4 linked regions of the Homo sapiens genome follow. The protein of the gene in region 2 purifies or fractionates together with the protein of the main gene of each other region. This does not show direct contact. Each region holds a gene or a part of one and is shown on either strand. Other genes may lie near its edges.

Region 1 (3,500 bases), on a different chromosome or scaffold from region 2:
CCCGGCCGGGAAGAGGCAGCCCGCGCCTGCCTCCCAGCAGATGCCCACAGCGCCAAGCGACAGCCTCGTGCTCATGCGGGCGGAGCAGGCGCACGGCCGGGGCTTGGTGGGCATGCGTGCTCTGTGCCGTGGCAGGCACCGCTCTTTCAATCCTCACAACAGCCTTGCGAGGTGGGACTTCTTAAGATGAAGACACCGAGGCCTAGGAAGGCAAAAATTACAGGCCCAAGGTCACCCAGGTTGGAAGCACCGGGCACTGAACCAGATGGCTGGAATCCACTAGAGCAAGGGGATTTTCAGGGGAGCCAGGCTTCCCAGGGCCTGCACCCCATGGGCACCGCAGTCTGCAAATCACCCGCATTCTGCACCAGACACAGTGCCACCTCTGCCGGCCGGGCCTGACACCTCGGTCGGGGGCGTCAGGGACCCAGAGGCACCAGGCAGGTTGTCTGAGGCCACAGATGGGATGCAGGCGGTTTCCATGGGAACCCGCACCCTCCAGCCGTGGCACCTCTCCCTGTACTTGTGCAGGGACAGCCAGCTAGTCCTGTGGGGAGCCGAATCCACACTCTACACAGCCATCCTCCTGCTACCTTCAAGCCTCTGCTGACTCAGTTCCCGCCTCCCTTCTCCTCCCTCCCAACCAAGCTGCTCTTTGAGTCCTCTAGGCACATGGATCACTTCCCATCCCTGCAGACCTCTCCAGGCACCTGCAGCCCACCTCCCACACAGCCACGCACCTCTCATGAGCTAGACTGACCTCCTTTGCTGAGCTGCACACAGGGTGGCGGCACCTCCTTTCTCAGGACCCAGGGCTGGGCATGCACTGTCCTGACCATACGCCTGGGCCTCCAATCCCCAGCAGGCACAGCTGCCCAGGAGCAACTTGGAGGTCTGCACTTTCACACCCTGCCAACCGCCAGTCAAAAACCCCTGCTATCTTGGTGTGGGTGGGTCATTCTTTATTAGGGGGAGGACAGGGAGGAGGAAGAGAGGGGACATGAGGAAGGGAGACATGGACAGCTCTTTCTTGTCCTCAAATTATGGTTCCTAGGGCCTGGCACAAAGTAGACACTCAGGCAGTATTTGTGAATGAGTCAATGGAAAGAAAACGAATGAATGTATGGATAGGATGTGGATATGTGGAAAGGGGAGAGGGCATTCCAAGAGGAAAGAATAGCAGAGACGGAGGTGTGGAGCCTAGAATCCAAGTGGCGATGCAGGCACAGGTCCCAGCACAGAAGTCACAGGAAGGCTGGTGGGCACATGGCCTACGGACAGTGGAGGCCTTGAGTACCAACAAACATGGACTTTGTTCCACAGGCCACAGAAAACCAGACATGATATTCGATCTCCACAAAATCCCCAAGGACCACCCACTACCAACATGGGCACAGGGGGTGTCTGGGATCTCTGGAGAATGAAGCAGCCTGTTGCCAGGATGCCAAGAACAGGCTCAGTGTGACACACATGGCCCACACTGGCTCACCAGGGCACTGCTGGTGCAGACATGATGAAGGCTGGAACCCACACCTGGGACCACTGGTGAGGAAAACTCCAGAATGCCTATGCCATTCCCCAGGAAAAGCCACAGTGTGCCTGCCCACTTAAATAGCAGTAGCAGGGGGCTCTGAGGTTACACTCAAGAAAGAACTTCCTCCTAGAGGGTTCTGAGACAGAAGGATAAAACTTCCTTCCCTGAAGTTTTGTGACAGGAACAAAAGCCCAGGATGTCACAGCAGATGGAAATGTCAAAACTTGATGCCCCAAGGGGACCAGGCACCAGAATTCACTCAGCACTACATTATTAAGCACCTGCTGGATGCTCTGCTCTGCACTGGCACAGTGAGGGGGAGGGGAAGACACCAGCTGGGCCTACCCCTCGAGGGGCCTGATTTAGAGGGGCTAGACACAGACACCCAAACATTTGTGGGATTAATGGTGCAGCTGGCAGCTCAGCTAGGGAAACTGGTCAAGGTCACCCGATCAGTTTGTGTGATGGTGGTGGGGAGCCCAGAGGTGCCCAGGTGCTCAGCCAAGGAGGGCATTGGCTCCTCCATAGGCCAAGGGCAGTATCTCAACAGGCAGAGGAGGTGGTGGGACCCCTGTCCCCAAGACTTACCAGTCGCCCAACACCAGGACACAGAGCAGCTCTGGACAGCTACTGCAATCAGCACAGTTCAATAACCGTGAAAGAACCCGTGGTCCGTCCCCCACAGCTAGAAGCTGTGGTTTGAGGAACGTGGGGAGGTTCAGCAAACCTTCTTAAAGAGTTCTTTCCATCCAGCATAGTTCTCACAAGGGCATTCAGCCTTAATGTCTCTTTCTCTGTTTATGCCTGTGCTATATTTAGCCCCTTTAGAGAAGGAAGAAAATCGTTTTTTAAAGATGCTACCCACCCCACAGATGAACACTTCCCACCACCATAAAGGCTGGGGGTGGAGACAGGGGCCCAGGGAAGGACTGGAAAATGCCTAGAGGGAGGCCTGGCATCCACTCGGCCTCGCTGCCTGCCAGGGAGACACAGGTGTGGGCCAGAGAAGCAGGTGAGGAAAATAAAACGGGAGAGCAGGAGGGGGTGGGCAGCAATGGTTTGCAGCCTCAATCCATCCACTCAGCAGAGCTCGTGTGCTCTCCTGGATGGAGGTTTCTGGTACAGCCTGTTTTGGGGGCCTCTGCCTGGCACACGGGGCCAGGGACACAAGACAGTGATAGCCAAGGGGATGGCATGGGCCCGGGCACAGAAACCTGTGTGCTGCCTATGCTGGGGGCAGGCCTACCCTGGGTCCTGGTGAGACCCACAAAAAGAGCCCTCTCTGTGCAAATCGTCAGCAGAGCACTCAGGAACTGGTTCCCTGACACACCCTCAGCCTCTGGAAGGAAAGAAGCCCAGCATTCATTTCATGGTTGCTCATTCATTCATTCGTCTTTGAGCCAATGAGCCACTATGCTTGTTGCTGGGAATTCAGCAGCAAAATGATCCTGATCCTGAACCCAATCCAGGGTAATGTTTTGTGCATGGAAGGAGCGGGCCAGAGTACAGAGCCTGGTGGCTACACTGTCCTTCCCAAAGCACCGCCACACACTAGAGGGAATGGGCTCCTTGGAGGTTCAGCTGGGGTCTGATGCTGGTTTTGCGCGCCCCAGGAGGGGGCCCTGGCTCAGCCCACCTCCATGCCCAACACAGTCACAAACAGGAACACTGTGTGCCTCTCCCTAGTGTGAAGCCCAGGATTGCTTCTCAAGATCTTGGCTCCATTCTCTGTTGCTTAGGCGTGGGACCCTGCCTGGTCTCCCTTTGATACCTATCCATCACCATGTCAAGTGGGAGAGACGTGAGGGGCTTAAGCATGCCAGCAGCATAAAGCAAAAGAGCTTCTCCACACACCCTGCTAGCTGCCTCTCCTGGCTCTCAGCTACTCTGAGGACAGTGTCTGTAAAGTCCTAGCACCTTGCCTTGTCCTTGGCAAGTGCTCCATTGGTGCTAGCCACTGCCCTGG
Region 2 (3,520 bases):
CATTTCCCAATGCTTCCTTACTTTCTCTAACCCAGGCACTAGCACATTTTTTCTGTAAAGGGTCAGCAAAGTAAGAATTTTAGGCTTTTCAGACCATATAGTGTTTCAGAAGCCACTCAACTCAAATATTGTAGCACCAAAGCAGCATAGACAGCATGTGAGTGAATACGTGGTGTTGTGCTCCATTAAAACTTTATTTACAAGAACAGGCAGTAGGCTGGATTGGTCTGAGGACTGTAGTTTGTGGACCCCTGCCTCTAACCAGAAAACTATGAATGTTTGACTTTTCTTATCAGGAAGTCGAAGTTTCTGCAAAAGATGCCCTTTTCTCCTGTGTGGAAATATTAATGCTTCATGAAACTGAAACCCCATATCAAATAAAAATCATGATTTGAGGGACCAAAATTCAATACTTAAGAATTTAACTACAAAACAAATAAAGCTTTCCCCTCTTAATATATTTTAGTGTTACTATATACAGATTAAACCAGATGACAAGCTACTATACAACAGCATGTTAAAAAACATGTTTATTTTACAATATGTACAATCAGGAACATATTTTAAAACCATTATCATTAAAATAAATGAAGATCATAAATCACAATTTAGTTTGTTCTTAGTGTATATACTCACATTAAAATATAAAGAACATATACCAAAAAGAGCCAAAAGTGTGCATTTTGCTAAAACCTGGTATATACATATTCCATTGGAAAAAAGCAATCAAAAATGACTTAAACCAAAACTAAGTTCCTGTGATGTGTAGTAACCATTATATTGTTTGTATGAGGTAGTAACTAAATTATTTTGGCCATGTATTAATACTCTAAGTCAAAAGAAATATGAAAAGGATCATAAAATAAGGCCAACAAAAGTAAAAATTCCAAGAGAAATTTGAACCACTTCACTCTATGGAATGTTACAGTTCTTCAGTGTGATCATATGAAATGTTTAGTGAGGACTCTTTAATAATGCTAATTAATTCTTTGTGCATACTGTAATTCTGACCACAATTGCAGTATTCTATCATGGTACCGCTATTCTGTGATTCAAAAATGTTCAAAGGTATTGTTTTTAAGCAAAGACAAGCAATCTTACAGGATTCTGCTTAAATATAAAAAGACCAGTTACTACAACATGTGGTTAATTATAATTGGTTTGCTTCACATAGAAAACAATCCAAATACATTTGTGGAGCCAAATGCTTATAGACAATGTCACAGCTTACTTTTGTGACTTAATACATCACATATCAATACTTTGTGCAAATATAAACACCAGTGTACTTGCATTAAAATTAAAAAGATTATAAAATGATTACAGCCTCCATTACAATTTTAAAAGTTACAAGATTTATATTCATATTACTAAATTACATATAATAAAAATACAATAGTGTTAAATGTATTGTTTCATTGCCAGCATCCCATTTTGTAATATAGCCACACCCAAGAATATACTAAAGAATTCTTAAAATATTAACCCCAATTGCATTTTCATCAACATTTACATCTGTACAGATAAGACACTTACTTGTACATCTCATAAAAGTACATTATCTACATAAATTCTTAGTGTATGTCTTCAGCAATATGAAGTTTCACAGAAAAAATACTGCCTATATGTACAAAGATTACATAACAATGAATTAAGCACTTGTGTGGTTCAATATGCTAAATATATCCATACCACTTAAAACAAAATTTTCCCCATCTTATCTCATGCCACAATAAATTACAAAGTAACTGAAGACAGGTTACTGCAGCTTTTGTACAGCTTCAAGCATCCATTAATGTTGCAGTGGTAGTGTTCTTTCTTTCTAGAGTTAACTGTCAAAGCACAACAATTCTCAGTAACTGTTTTCATGACCCGCCAGGATGTACAAATTGCTATTTGCTGTGGGGTTATCAGTTGGCCTACTTTCCAAAACCACGACCCTGAAAGTAATAAAAAACATATAACAAAACAAAGTTATTCCTGAAAATTAATGTTAGCTCCCAAATTTTCCATTGCTTCTCCAATATGTGCCTCTATAAATGCTGCTCATTTGATCGTGGGCAGAAATCATTTGCTATCACTGTGATTACAGGGCCAGTTCTAGCTCTGGGAAGTAATTTTGCTGTCCACTACCTCCCACCTCTAGGCCAGTGTTCTTCTAAGAGTCAGAAGTGGGGAGAAACCTATATTAGAAATTATTTGGGGGAACTTAATTCTTATTACAAGTTCTAAAAACGATTTGCAGTTCAAGAACCAGAAGCTAAATTGCCAGGGTCTGACCCAGAGACCCACGCTGCACAATGGATGAATAACGTACCCAGACACTGGTATTCAGTGAAAGACTGGCTAGGGGGCCAGGGCGCTCACAGAAAGAGTTGTAGTGGCCGTGTGCCCTGACTAGCTGTCCCTGCAGGCATTTATTCAGCACAGATTTAATGACAAAGGCTTTGAGTCAACCTACTTGTGGGTAATTTATCAGGTTGCCCTCCCCAGGAAAGAGCAGTCCTGCCCGCATGATCAAAGGTTGGTTTTAGGACAACATGAGTAAACAAGCTATTTAGATAAACTCCTCTACATTCCTATGTATCTATGCCCTAAGCTTTTAAGAGAATTCAGCTGCCTTCAGCCAAATCTTTTACTGAAGCTATGCAAACCTTCTGGCCTTCCAAGAAGGTTTGTGTCTATTTCCTATAACTTTATAATCTCTCCCACCACCCTGACCAATGTCTTACAGTCAATCAGAACAGGTCTCCAAAATCCTATCGGCATTAACAACACAAAGTTCTGTTCATTAACATATGGTATTTCCTCTTTCTTCTGCTGCAAATCAGATGTCAGTATGTTTAATGGAAACTAGTACTGACAGATCCATACATTCCTGTTACTTGGAAGATCAGGTACATTTTCAAAGGCTAACTTTCTGACCTGTGAATTCTTATAGTGTGAAAAATTCAATGTTGAACATATTGCAGACATTTCAATTCTCTTGAAAAAGAAATCTGTTTCATGCTGGATCTATAAAACACGTTTAGTACTGTGTATTTAATACAGTCCGTTTTCATACCTGTCAGATCCAAGCAGCCTGAAAATTCTTGTGCTATCTGAAATTTCTTGTGTTACCTGTTCAATTAAAACACAAATTTAATTTCTGAAATTAAAGACACAAAATTTTTAATGGGCACTTCATTATAATTCAACAGAAAAGAAACATGATCGCTAAAAATGAAAACATATTCCTGCATGACTGTTTGTTAAAGTCAGCATGTAGATACATCAATTTGTTAGTCGAGGGGAAATGTGGTTAATTTTGAGTTAATCATAAAATGCAGGCAAAGGAAAATGATTTCCTTGTTAAATCATAAGACTTCAAGGGAAAAACTTAAAAGCAAAGCACTAAATCCATTTTATTTATTAGAAACTTTCATCATTTATGTTAACGCTAATGGCAAGGTTACTGGCAGCAGTAAGCTACTTAGATCTGCTTCTTTTACTTAAAAAGGCTGCCACGTAGTGTAACAGG
Region 3 (3,500 bases), on a different chromosome or scaffold from region 2:
GGGGCAATGGAGATTCCTGTTGTGAGAAGGATTATATTATAGTTGTTTAGACAGCTTGAAATTCATGGAGTAGCGCCTATATCTCTAAGGAACAGGGCACTCTAAGGAGCCTTCATCAGCGGAGCTCCCCAGGTTGTACCAAGGTGGCTTCCTGTTGCCTTCCTATGGCAGTGGTTCTCAACTTGGTGGCACACTAAACAGCCCACTGCCCAGGGTGAACCCGGCATCAGTATTTTTTGTTTCTCAGGTCCTTCCTATGTCCAGGGTAGGTTGACAACCACCAGTGAAATGATCCTCCCCTCTCCTTCCCCTAAGGAAGCGTTAAAGGTTAAAGAGACTCAGCTGGCGAGGAAAGAGAAGGGGGTAATGGTAGGGGAGCTCTTCTTCCTCTTCAGGGAGGCAGCTCCTGTACTGGGTCGTGACTTTGAAACTCTGAACCCACCTGCAATATAACCTCTATGATCTACATGATGTTTCTAGCCTCTAGACAGCTCCTTCCGTGACAGACCCCACCCCTGCCTAAGTCTGTGTATTCCTCTTGTCATAATGATGAAAGCTAGGGGGTGGAAGGCTGTAAATATTGGGGATTAGTTCACTATTTTGAATTTGAACAGAACAACATTCAATGATTTCAAACAAAGCATGGGGAATAGAGGGCTTACAATACAGAACTTTTCATTTTCCTTGGGTCATGGAGTGTGTATATGGGTGGGCAGGTGGGGGCTGAGCACTGAAAACCAAGGGCAACCTGAGCTGTGAGTCAAAGTCTACTTTATTAATGTATAACTGTTTTAATGTGGATTATAAAAATAATTATTATTCTTTTAGCATTTCTCCCACTACTAGACTAGTTTTTAACAGAGAAGGGGTCAGGTGCCAAACCACATGGTAGTCTCGGGAAGCATTTCCTTGAACACAGAATGTTAATGCTAGAATGGAATTTGGCAGTCCTCCATGAGTCCTCTCCTTTTCCAAGAGAAGCCATCAATGCCTCTGAGAGGTCATAATGGCCTGGCCCCAGGGCTACTGGCTGAGCCAGAAACAGGAGGGCTCCAGACCCTAGGCCATCAGCTACCTTGCTCCATGTCACCTCGTACATGATCTATGACACCACTAAGGGTTGCCAAGACATTTCATAGGCTGACACACTGATTACAGGGCTAATGATAGATAGATAGATAGATAGATAGATAGATAGATAGATAGATAGATAGATAGATTTATATATTTCCCTCCCATTTACTCTATAAGCCACCTGCAATGACCAAAATGCTTAGTGGCAAGCATACATTTGTCCAAGTGTATGCACCACCTCCATGTGTAAACCAGGCCACCACCTCCATGTGTAAACCTGGGTTCTTGCTGCACACACACACAGAACAAATCATGGAAAAGCTGCATTACTCACTTCTCATGTCATTCATTCTTGGCAAGGAACCACTGCCACATTGCCCACTTTGATATTCTGAGAGCTGGAAAGAGACCAGCACTCATATCACACTCCATCAGCACCTAAACCCAAGGCAGGGCATCTCTCCAGAGACCACTGAGTAGAAAGACCCTGTTCAAGAACTCCCTGACTCAGGCAGTACAAGTGCACCTGGCCCTCCAGCCACCACTGGGCTGGCTACAACACTAAGAGCAATTGGCACTTGCTAAGTAGGCAGTTGGTAAATCCACCCCAACCAGAGCTCAGACTGGCTGCCCTGAATTATACATGCAGCCGGACGATATTCTGAAGTATCAATGCATTTTTCATTCTGGGTCATTTCTGTTGCCTGGGGCCCTCAACCCAAGGAGCTGGGGCTTGCCTCCCTTACTTGAGGAGGAGGGTGGAACCCAGACATGAACAAAGCAGTCAATGTTTAGCTTTTAAATTCCCAAATAATACCATTTCAGTTGTGAAACATTGTGAAAGCCAAGGCTTTTAGGCTTTCATGCTAGAGCCAGGTAGGCTTTTATAAGATTTAAGAGCGAGAGAGAGAGAGAAACTTCTGGGTTCCAAGAACTAGAGCTTGAAGAACTCAGAGCCTAGCATTTTGATTACAAGCCATGGAGAGGGAGGAGCTGTTTCCTGCCATCCAGAGAAGAGATACAAGCTCTTTCTGGAGGCAGGGAAGCAGGGAAGGGGCCTGCAGTGAGAAGAGGGTGAGCAAGAAAATTGAAATGCTCCTTGGATGCCACCCTGGGGAAGGGGGTCTTAGACTCCACTTTCCACAGAAATCCCGGGAGAAGGCAGCTGTCAAAGTTCTCTGGACTAACACGGGGGCTGGAGCCCAGTGGAAACCATGTGGTGTCACTAAGTACAGATGGGGCCTGAAGGCTGGTCGCTCCCTGTGAACTGTGAACAAATTCCCTCAAGTCCCCAGCAGGAAGTGCTGAGGGGCCACTGAGGCCAGAGGCTGCCTGGGGGCAGTGACACACGGCTCCAAATACAGAGATTCAGCAACCCAGAGAGGGAGGCCTAAGCCACAGATGTCAGCACAGATCCTGGCCCAGGCCCCAGGCCTCCTGTGACGAGTCACCTCAGCTGTGGAAGTGAGCCTCCCTACCTGCCACCATGATGTTCTGTAAACCCCCCTCACATCTAGGCAACATCTTAGGACTGGACCAGGGGGAGGAGAGAACCTTCAAGAAAAACCAACAGCCCTGATAGGGAATTTCTACTCTGAATTGACTGTGTTTAAATCTGGAATCGCCTAAGTCATAAACGGATAGTCTATGCTTTCTATTGGAAGAGACTGAGCTACCTTGAAATGGCAAGATTATGCTTTTTTCCACCATTAGAAGAAATGGAAAAAAGATTTTAAAGCTTTTTTTTTTTTTTGGTCAACAACAGAAATGGAAAAAAGATTAAGTTGTTTCCGCCATTGGTCTACATAGAGGCTTGCAAGCAAGTTCAGTTCAGCTAAAGAGAAATTAAGTTGCTGCCCGCCTGAGGGACAGTGTGTGAATTTTCCCTTGACACAAAAGTCACCATGGATGGAGCCCCAAAGTCCAGGCAGAATGGGCTGGATTTCCTCAATGGAGGCTTTCCAACTGTTAGATATAAGCCTCTCCAAGGGACCTGAATGCTTGGTTTCCCACCATCAGAAGCCAGCACCTCAGCTGAAAACGTCTCGTAAGAAAAGACTGATCCTACCCAGCGTCCCATCCCTGTTGACAACCCCTTCCCCTTGCCCCTGTGGTCCTGCAGCTGGCAGTTCCTCATCCACCTCCACCTCCTTGCTCTCTCACATTCAGTAGCTGGCACCTGGAATCGCTGGGCATAGTTGTGTAGGAGCTCCCAGGTGGCTGCTGTGGATCTCGGTGTCCTTGAACAGGCGGCTGAAACCCCTGACCCTGGGCTGTCCAGTGAGACGGCTTCAGCCAGCACTGCCCTCCCCAAGTGGCCTTGTGTTGATTTTCTCTTACTCCTGAGACCTGGCTTCAACGAAACGTGAGAGCAGAGGTGGGAAAACACAGTCTTCCTTGTTAAAGTATTGAAACAAAGATTATTT
Region 4 (3,500 bases), on a different chromosome or scaffold from region 2:
GCTCCTGCTCCAGCTGCCGCTGTGCCTCCTCGGCCCGCCGCTTTTCCTCCAGCCGACGGTTCTCCTCCTCCTTCTGCAGGGAGAGCCACTGCCCGCTCAGCCCTATGCTGCCACTTCAGCCTAATCCCCTGCCCAGGACTGAGTTTTAGGCACATGGCCAAAGACGGGCACCAGAGCCAGTCGATCATTAGCCTTGTGGCTTAACTTACCCGAGCCTCAGTGTGACCATCTGTAATGGGCACCAAGGAGAGTGGATGCTGCATGAGCTCACTTGTGAGGAAAGATGAGCCACAGCAAGCAGAACACTCCCACGTGCCCAGCATGCCCCGGGGCAGCACTCACCTCTGCTTTGGCCCAGAAGCTGTCTTTACCAACCCTTTTAATCTCAGACACGGCATTGGTCTTCTGGTACACAGAGCCCTGTAGGGGACAGCACTCATTAGAGACCTGGACCCAGGTGGAAGGCCAGGCCCACAGGCACCAAAGGAGAGAATACGCTAAACTTGCGACAGCACAGGTGAGTGCTGCTAGGACTGGACCCAGCAGAGGCAGCAGAGCACTGCCCAGTGACCCTCAAGGAGACACACACCAAGATGACCTGAAAGAAGCCCAGGACACTGCCCCAAGGGGGATGCTCAATCCCAGACAACACTAGAGGGGTCTCTGGTGGTCTCTCGCCCTCATGGATGGGGGCCAGGGCAAGAAAGGCCCCCATACCCCACCTGCAGACTCCTAGACATTGGGCAGTTCTGAGGCAGGCCTCTGACCAGGGGCACTCAGACAGCTGACTACCACAAGAGCATCCAAGGAATCACGTCCAACCACACGCATGCGGACGCAGCTCCCAGCCATCAGCTCCACACAGCACTGGGGCCACAGGCCCACAGGTATCTCCCGTGACTCCAAGGGGCCTGCTCTGGTTTCAGGCTCCGCCTTGATGCCTCCTTTAGTTCCTCCACGGTGGCTACCTCCAGGGGCAGCCCAAGATGTTCCAGTGCCATGACCTTGAGGGCAGCCAGACTATCATAGCCATGCATGCTGCAGAGCCTCCACTCTGACCACACAGGCTGGGCTCCAGAGGAAGGCTCCAGAACAGCTAGTCCAACCCCTAGGCAAGGTCAGAGGGCTATTCCTGCTCATCTGGTCAGTGGGCAATCACCACAGCTCAGGGGTTACCATCTGCAGAAACTAAGCAGGCATGGGCCCAGCCAGCCCGGGTGCTGGGAAGTGCATATTCCTGGCCCCCTGCCTCAGGCCCTGAGCAACAAAAGGGCTGGCGATGGGCAAGCAGCACTCACCACTGGGGCCTGGGGTCCCACGTCCTGGAAGCGGCCACTCTCCTTGTGAAAGCTGTAGTTGGCACCTGAAGCCTTGGCCACCTTCTCCATGATGCACTCAGGCTCCACATCCTCCTCGGCCCGTGCGTTGATGGTCACATGGGCCCCCTGCAGCAGGAGCAGCACTTGAAAGAAGGGCTTTGCAAGCCCAGGAGATGGGCCAAACTCCTGTCAGTCCATACAGCACGGGCCACTACTATACCACACAGGACTGGAATCAGGAAACTAGAAGGCACCTGTCTGGCTGCTGAAAACTGAGGCACGAGTTCCCCTCAAGGGCTCAAACAAACCAACTTGGAGCAAACCCCTCATTCTTGTCCCAGTTCACGTGAGACCCTTGACCTCCACTGTGCTATCCAGTGGTTCCTTCTGTAGCTGTTCCCTGCTGTGTATCAATAGACAGCCCAGGCATAATTTGCATCAAAGGCCTTCCTTCTAATCAATGAAAACTAATTTTAAATGCCATCTGGAAGCCACAAAAGACCCTGAATAGCTAAAGCAATCTGAAGCAAAAAGTACAAAGCTGGAGGCTTCATGCTACCTGATTTCAAATTAAACTACAAAACTACAGTAAGCAAAACAGCATGGTACAGGCATAAACACAGACACAACAATGGAAACTAACAGAGCACTCACACACACAGCCAACTCATTTTTAACAAAGGTGACAGGAACATACACTGGGGAAAGGACGGTCTCCTTCATAAACAGGGCTAGGAAAATTGGATATCCATATGCAGAAGAATGAAACTAAATCTTCATCTTTTACCATATTAAAAAAAAACTCAAAATGGGTTAAAAAGACTTAAATGTAAGACCTGAAACTATGAAACTACTCAAAGAAAACACTGGGTAGATGCCCCTGGACATTGATCTGGGCAAAGATTTTTTTTGGGTTAAGACCTCAAAAGCCCAGGCAACAAAAGCAAAAATCAACCAATTGGACTACATCAAGCTAAAAGGCTTCTGCACAGCAAATGAAACAATCAACAAAGTAAACAGACAACCTACAGAATGGGAGAAAATATCTTCAAACTATCCATCTGACAAGGAATTAGTGACCAGAATATATAAGGAACTCAAACAACTCAGTAGCAAAAAAATAATAATCTGATTTTAAAATGGGCAAAAGACCTTAACAGATATTTCTCGAAAGATGATATACGCATGGCTAACTACATACAAAAAAATGCTCAACATCACTAACCATCATCAGGGAAATGCAAACCAAAACCATAACGGGCTATCATCTCACCACAGTTAGAATGGCTATTATAAAAAACATAAAAAATAAATGCTAGCAAGGATGTGGAGAAAGGGAAATTCTTATACACTGTTGGTAGGAATGTAAAGTAGTACAGCCATTATAAAAACAGTATGGTTTTTTGGGTTTTTTTCTGAGACAGAGTCTTACTCTGTTGCCCAGGCTGGAGTGCAGTGGACAATCTCGGCTCACTGCAACCTCCACCTCCCAGGTTCAAGAGATTCTCTGCCTCAGCTTCCTGAGTAGCTGGGATTACAGGTGCCCGCCACCACACCTGGCTAATTGTTGTATTTTTTTAGTAGAGACGGGGTTTCACCATGTTGGCCAGGCTGGTCTTGAACTCCTGACCTCAGGTAATCTGTTCACCTTGGCCTCCCAAACTGCTGGGATTACAGGCGTGAGCCATCGCGCCTAGACAACAGTATGGTTTTTAAAACAGTATTTTAGTCCTACTAAAAGCAGAACTACCATATGATCTAGCAATCCAGCTGCTGGGGATATATCCAACTCTGAAGTTCAGCGCTATTAACAATAGCCAAGATACGGAATCAACCAAAACGTCCATCAATGGATGAAAGGGTAAAGAAAATTTAGTATATAAACATGAGGGAATATTATTCAGCCATAAAACAGAATGGCATCCTGTCATTTGCAGCAACATGGATGGAACTGGAGGTCATGATGTTAAGGGAAATAAGCCAGGCACAGAAGACAAGTATTGCATGTTCTCACTCATGTGGGAGCTAAAAAAGTGGGTATCATGGAGGGAGAGAGTAGAATGCTGGTTACCAGGGGTTGGGAAGGGCATGGGGGAGAGAAAATGAAGAGAAGTTGCTTAACAGGTACAAAAGTACAGTTAAATAGAAGGAATAAATTCTAGTATTCAATAGTACAGAAGG

Evidence for each region. The genes of interacting proteins can lie anywhere in the genome.
Region 1: the proteins of MAP4K3 (region 2) and ZNF423 purify together in Homo sapiens (affinity purification with mass spectrometry; one large-scale study listed by BioGRID and IntAct). This does not show direct contact.
Region 3: the proteins of MAP4K3 (region 2) and SH3GL3 purify together in Homo sapiens (affinity purification with mass spectrometry, with the first as the bait; one study listed by BioGRID). This does not show direct contact.
Region 4: the proteins of MAP4K3 (region 2) and DBNL purify together in Homo sapiens (affinity purification with mass spectrometry, with the first as the bait; one study listed by BioGRID). This does not show direct contact.

What each region holds. Positions count from the first base shown.
Region 1 is NC_000016.10:49,492,613-49,496,112, forward strand, and holds part of ZNF423 (zinc finger protein 423), read right to left. Parts: intron 1-3,500. UniProt on the Homo sapiens protein: Transcription factor that can both act as an activator or a repressor depending on the context. Plays a central role in BMP signaling and olfactory neurogenesis. Associates with SMADs in response to BMP2 leading to activate transcription of BMP target genes.
Region 2 is NC_000002.12:39,248,766-39,252,285, forward strand, and holds the end of MAP4K3 (mitogen-activated protein kinase kinase kinase kinase 3), read right to left. Parts: intron 3,121-3,520; coding exon 3,065-3,120; exon of another isoform or gene 3,060-3,064; intron 1,941-3,059; coding exon 1,853-1,940; 3' UTR 501-1,852; downstream 1-500. UniProt on the Homo sapiens protein: Serine/threonine kinase that plays a role in the response to environmental stress. Appears to act upstream of the JUN N-terminal pathway.
Region 3 is NC_000015.10:83,611,341-83,614,840, reverse strand, and holds part of SH3GL3 (endophilin-A3), read right to left. Parts: intron 3,428-3,500; exon of another isoform or gene 3,424-3,427; coding exon of another isoform or gene 3,254-3,423; intron 1-3,253. UniProt on the Homo sapiens protein: Implicated in endocytosis. May recruit other proteins to membranes with high curvature.
Region 4 is NC_000007.14:44,054,702-44,058,201, reverse strand, and holds part of DBNL (drebrin-like protein), read right to left. Parts: intron 1,446-3,500; coding exon 1,299-1,445; intron 421-1,298; coding exon 343-420; intron 74-342; coding exon 1-73. UniProt on the Homo sapiens protein: Adapter protein that binds F-actin and DNM1, and thereby plays a role in receptor-mediated endocytosis.